Regions from separate parts of the Homo sapiens genome. Here region 1 is linked to region 2. Evidence: fine-mapped expression QTL. A gene starts in region 2. The other region holds a variant in brackets. All regions are shown on one strand. Distances are between the middles of the regions.

Region 1 (2,911 bases), 98 kb before region 2:
CCTCCCCTGTGCCACCAGGAAGAGACAACAGCGAAGATTCCCCCCGCCCCCACCCCCACCCCCACCTCCGCTGCCGTTCCGTTTGGACCCAGACTGGGCCGCCTGCCTCCATCCTCTGTCCAGCCCAGCCCCGAGGAAACACAAAAGGCAGAATCTTCGGGGGACAGGGCAGAGAACCCCACGAGTGCGTAGTGGCCCTGATCGTCCAACACTGGGGAACAAATAGCCAAGCCACATAAAATGTCATATGCTGTGAGGAAAATGTCACTTTATTGAAAGAGAAGGAAACATTTTTCTGCAAAGCTTTGTATACCAGACAGATTTTGCTGAGTTTTACTTACGCTTAATTCCACTGAAGGTATTTAATTGTTTTGGATTTTCCCTCTGAAAATACCCTGGCGTAGAAATTAAACATGTAAAAATAGAGTCCACATGAGTCATAAGTTGTGATGGGGACAGTTGTTAGGCTTAATTAATTAAGGGGTTAATCAGGTTGGTTAATCAAGGGAAAGATATTTGATAATTTTATGTTTGTAATATTTTAACTCACACACTGAAAAGGGAAGAATGCATATAGTGAAATATATTTTGAAAAGTCTCACCCTAGTTTTAAAAATGCTGTGGTGAGTGCTAGTCTCCCCAAAAGTTAGAAATCTTAAAATGAGTTTATCTAAAATTTATAAACATATTTCTATCTAAAAGTAACTGATGTTATTTCCTTGCTCTTTTGAGCTCTGATTAATAGTGCTGATGAAATTAGAAGTGGGAAAAGGATTCCGAGACAGCTTTGGCCAATTTTATTTTCTAATCACGAATCCCATCTGGATTGTAGAATAGCATAGGGCGGGGGCTCGGCCTGCCCCATTCGGTCTTGCATATGTAACACTCCTTCCATTCAACAGATAACAGAGAGTTAGTCACCTTGTGAATCCTTTAAAAATAACAACACCCATAATTGTAAATAAGCCGTGGGGATGGGAAACCGGCACCTCTACCAACAAAAAAAACAAAACAACTCCTGCGTGAGTGAATTCAAACAGGGCTCTGAATTTAGCCAAGGGAATCTATTAAACGCTACTGAGATACTGAGATTCAATGAATCCGTTTCTTTTTCTTTATTTGTGGCTTCCAGTCTTGCTAGCGTAAATGAAATCTGCTTTCAGACGGGTACAGTCAAAATAAATGGAAACTTGAAAGGTACTAGTATTGGAAACTA[A/G]TTTCACCACCCGGGGCTGGAAGGAGTTAGGCTGCGCACGCGCGCACGCACACACCAGCGACCTCCAAGCAGGTGTAGCCCAGCCCGGGCCGTGGATCGCAGCCGCCTTCTGCGTGATTTTCTCAGAACCTGTGCACCCGCATGCATGGGGACATCGGGTCGAGATATTTGTCTTCGCCTGGGAAGAGCAAAGCGCCATCACAGTGCGCCCCCGACGCCGGCCTTGGCGCACGCGATTCGGAGAATGGGCCGCGTGAAGTTAAGTTGGGGGAAACAGCGCGGATTTGCCCCCCTCCAGGGGGGCTTCGCGAAAGTCAGTGAACATAAGGATCCAAGGCAGAGCACCCAAGGGGCCTTCCCCGGCTTCAGGTGACTCCTCCCCTTCCTTCGGGGTCCTGGCCAGCGCTTTGGAAAAATCCCGGGCCTCTTCACTTTCCCTTGCGGACCCCGCGGTGGGTTCTTCCTCCGACGACTGCGGAGCCCGAGGCCCCAGGCCCTCCAATTTCTCCTATCCTGGTGTGCGGGGATGCCGTCGGGGAGCGCGCCGGGGTTCACTCTGACCCTCACCACGGCTGGAAATCAAAGTCAAGGCAACAGGGAGTTTGTAGAAAGCGCGAAGCTTGGAAATAAGAGCAGAAGCGGGGAACTTCTGCGGAGGAGTTGGCTCCTTGGGGTGTCTAGGAGAACAGGAGGCCCTGGCCTCACGGGAGGAGCCGGGCGGGCCCGCATTCTCACCCCGCAGAGGGTATCGCGTTTGGAGACGTCGGCGTTGGGGGTGAGGTGTCAGCGCCCCTCATCACCACTCTGCTGCAGACTTCTCTTCTGGCTTCACAGAAGCCCCCACTCCCGGCCCTCAGTCCCCCGAGCCACAACCGGCAGGAACCGTGCGTTACCGCTGCAGTGCCCGCCGCCCGGAGGGACCAGCGCCTCCCTGCGCCGGGTGCGCCCGACCCGAGCCGGTGAGAGGCTTTGTATTTGCAGGAATGAGGGGTTGTTGTGTCAGTCCCAGGGGCACGCGAGAGACACGCGCAGCCCGCCTGGCCGCCACCCCGCCCGGCCCGGCCCCAGGCACCTTCCGGGCCTCCCGCCCGCGGGCCGTTGCCTTTGTTCGGCGCATTAGCATAAAGCTGCCAGGGATCTCCCGTTTAGATAATTCCACACAAAAGGAGAGTGCATGAAAGAGAGCGAACAAGGGACGATCCGCGAGGCTGCGTCGTGCGTCCTCGCGGGGAGGGACCGCGCTCAAGTATTTCCCTCCCCTCGAGTTTCAAGTGCCCCCTGGCAATCTGCTGCGCGCCCATTATTCGGCCGGGGGCCGACGGCGTGGCTGGCCACCTCTTTTATCCCCCCGAGAGTACCGTCGGGGCCACTGCACGCTCCTTGAAGTGCCCTCAGGGCTGTTTGTTTTTGCCTCAGTGGGACCGTCGGGCCAGGGAGGGAGGAGAGCGGGTAGGAAGGCCCGGGCGGGCGGCGGGAAGGGCGACGTCGGCGAAAGCTGGCAGAGGCGAAGCCCAGAAGGTGAGAAAGTCATAACCAAAGAATTAGGTCAGGGAGAGTCAGGACGGCACGGGACCCATCGGGATGACATTGACCTTGGGGCGCAAGAGGTGTCCTCCACCTGTGAGGTGCTGGCGGCCGCTAGTCCGTGCGCCTCGGTCTCAAACGGAACTGACAAAACCCAGCGAAACTGACCAG
Region 2 (2,911 bases):
GAATATATTAGATATAACATAACAAAGCCTCTGTTCGATGATGCATGCAGTGGAATTTTAATGTTATACTTTTCCTACAAACATGCTTTTAATAAGGCAGTAAACTGTATTTAGCTAAAGATGAAAATAATTGATCCATTTTGAGCCATTAAGGTAGTTTATTTTTTTTACTTTACTTTCATCCTACTTTTCATTTTCATGGAAAGTACAGAGGTAATAGCAGATGAATTTCAATTAGTTTCAATTAGTGCCATAAATTGTTATAATGTATCGGGTTGCTGGGTTCTATCAGAAACCCCCCAGCAGAACACTCCAGGTTTTGTTTGCAGTTGAAAGCAGCATTTGAGCCTGTGATGTCAGCTCTTCTCCATGGCACTAGAGCAGTTCTAATAGTTTAGGGTAATTTACTTCTATAAATCCATCCAACTCTAGAGCCCGGAAAACCATGTCCTCTGGATGGACTAATTCCATCACAGAACCACTGTGTTCTCCTTTGGAAGCAGAAGATGTGAAATACAACAGTGACTGTGGGAAGGAGCTACTCTCTGGGGTGGTATCTGTGTGCGTCTGCAATGGGTAGAAGTTCAAAGGAGAGCCGACTTCCTCCTGGGAGTATCTCTTGTTCTTGATGCCCAATATCCACTGTTCTAGAACAATCCATCCACCATTCTCCCCTCACATCCCTGGGCTTCAGTAACATCAGCACTGGTGTTTGTTAGGATTCAGGGTGTGGTTCCCGGAGGGACATGTCACCCAACCACAGCCAGTGGGACACGATGAAACTATTTTTCACTGTCCTTGGCTCCCTTGCCCCAACTCACATGCTAAAGTATTTAAAAAAGGGGAAATTAGCACTGAGGGAGTAAAAATAAACTATGATGAAAACTGTCCACATTCCTCCTGGTGTTATTAGGGTGACATGAAGAAAAAGCAAGGACTGAAATGTCCAGGACGGTCACGGATGGCTCCATGCGACTTTTCAAACGTGCATAAGCACAGCCCTGCTCCTTGCTTTCCATCATGTGCCAGACTTCTAGCTTCTGGCTTCAAATGCCAATGAGACAGGCAGGTGGGAGGGAGTCCCTAGAAAAACTCCAACCAGCCTGCACATTGGGGTGGAGCCTCCGGAAATGCATGCCATCTGCAGTGGGGAGGAGCCTGGCCCCTCCTCTTCCTGTGTGGAACCTGGGAATCAAGTAGCCGGCTTGCCTTGCGGAGGATCCTGCTTCCCCCTCCTCCACCCCATTTTTTTCCTTTCACCCAGTAAAACCCTGTTTAACTCACCCTTCAAACCGTCTGCGAGGCTACGTTTTCGTGGCCACGGGACGGACAAGGACCCCATCTTTAGCTGAACTACGGAAAAGCCCTGCAACACCACCATCTCATCGCTGACTTGGAAATAAGCTAGCAGTGGCTGTGTCAGCAAGACCACCACATGCAGCAAGGGTGGCCACTTCCAGCTAGCTCCTGCATCCACAGCTGCCTCGCCCCTATTGGCTACTGCCATCCATGGTAAGCCATTCTCCCGTGGTCACCTTCTCTCTGCTGGCATGGGTACTACAGATGGAAAGGCCATTTTCCCAAAGTGCTATGTGTGTACAGCGGCACCCGCCTGGTCAGCTCCCATCCCTAAAAGGTAACCAGTTAAACTTGGACGTGGCTGGGTGCTTGCGGCCCGCCAGTGTCTGTCCCTGCCCATGCCTCTGGCTTCATCTCCTGCTGCTGCCCTTCACAGACTCTGCCCAGCCCACGTTGTTGGCCCAGTGTCTTTTGGACACAATCCAAACTCCCCCAGCCTCTCTCTCTTCTTATCCTGTCCCTCTTCAAGACTGAGCTCAAATCCTCCTTTCTCGGGGAGGCCTTCTCCAAACTTCACAGCCTCCAGGGCTCTCCTGAAGGCCACAGTGCCTCTATAGCTGACTGGCACCTGGTGTACACGGATCCCTGTCTTTAAATAGAGACTGATATCCTCAACTTCATCAGGGCCCTGGTGGCAAGGGCTGAGACTTCTACTCTAGGGTACCTTTAATTCCATCACACATAGAAGTAAGAGCAATGCTAATGGCAGCCTCTATGAAACTCTTTCTATGTATGAGAGACTGTCCTGAGTATGGCATGTAATCTCATTTATCTCTTTTCACCCTCTCAGCAACCCATGTGAGGTAGATATTATCTAGAATCTGAGACACAAAGCAGTTAAGTAACTTGCCCAGGGAAACGGCAGACCCAAGATTTGAACCCAAGTCACGTGACTCCAGAACCTGAGCTAGACTGACTTTATAAATGTCTGTTATTCGTGAGGAGGAGCTTAACTCATCCTGTGTAGCCAGCATGTTATTACTCTCATTACTAAGGATGAATTTTTAAAGAATAGCTTCAATTTCATTCAAGGGTTCTCTTGTCTTCATCTCAATTGACCATCTATTTCCAGGTAGGCCGAATGCAAAAAGTTTTGATAAAACTCACCATGTGGGAGGTAAGGAAAAGAGTTACATCCTGAACTGTCTTCACTTACATTCAGTAAAACATTTATTTTGCATTTACTATGTGCCAGGCACTATGCTGGATACAAGTGACACTGAGATAGAGTAGAGCTGAAATTATCAAAGAAATGGCTTGGAGCTTCAGCCAAGTATGGTACTGTAGATGTCTCAGAAGCAATGCTGCAACAGCTATATTCTTTTCAAAATGCAGTTCTGGAAAGATCACTAGGCTTTCTGCAGTATGAAAAGGGATTTGAAAGCCCAGCAATGAAACTCAAGTATCATATACCCAAAGTCTCAGTTAAGAAATAGAGGTCACAAGGTGACTGAAGTGATTTGGCATGAATTTGTATTTCTATATGGAATGCCCTCCCAGCTAAATGTATTTCAGCCTGCCAGAGAAGCCAATGGTTTATTTAGGAGGCTCT

Alleles and levels. Positions count from the first base shown, and alleles are read on the strand shown. Sizes are in standard deviations (SD) of each study's normalised expression.
In carriers of allele G in region 1, the expression in prefrontal cortex of the gene that starts at base 1,169 in region 2 tends to be higher than with A alone (large effect, 1.1 SD a copy in ROSMAP).

Evidence for each region.
Region 1: its variant is fine-mapped to the expression of CFAP61-AS1 in prefrontal cortex (ROSMAP, PIP 0.92).

Annotation. Positions count from the first base shown.
Region 1 is chr20:20,363,840-20,366,750 of GRCh38, reverse strand. No RefSeq gene overlaps it. Among named protein-coding and RNA genes, the nearest start is that of INSM1, 2.8 kb to the left of the region's middle. The variant A/G (reference allele first, on the strand shown) is at 1,217.
Region 2 is chr20:20,266,095-20,269,005 of GRCh38, reverse strand. CFAP61-AS1 (CFAP61 antisense RNA 1) reads left to right here and starts at 1,169. Exons shown (of 4, transcript NR_183979.1): 1 at 1,169-1,512. The region is part of intron 21 of CFAP61 (cilia and flagella associated protein 61); the gene reads right to left. RefSeq lists an enhancer at 1,440-1,940.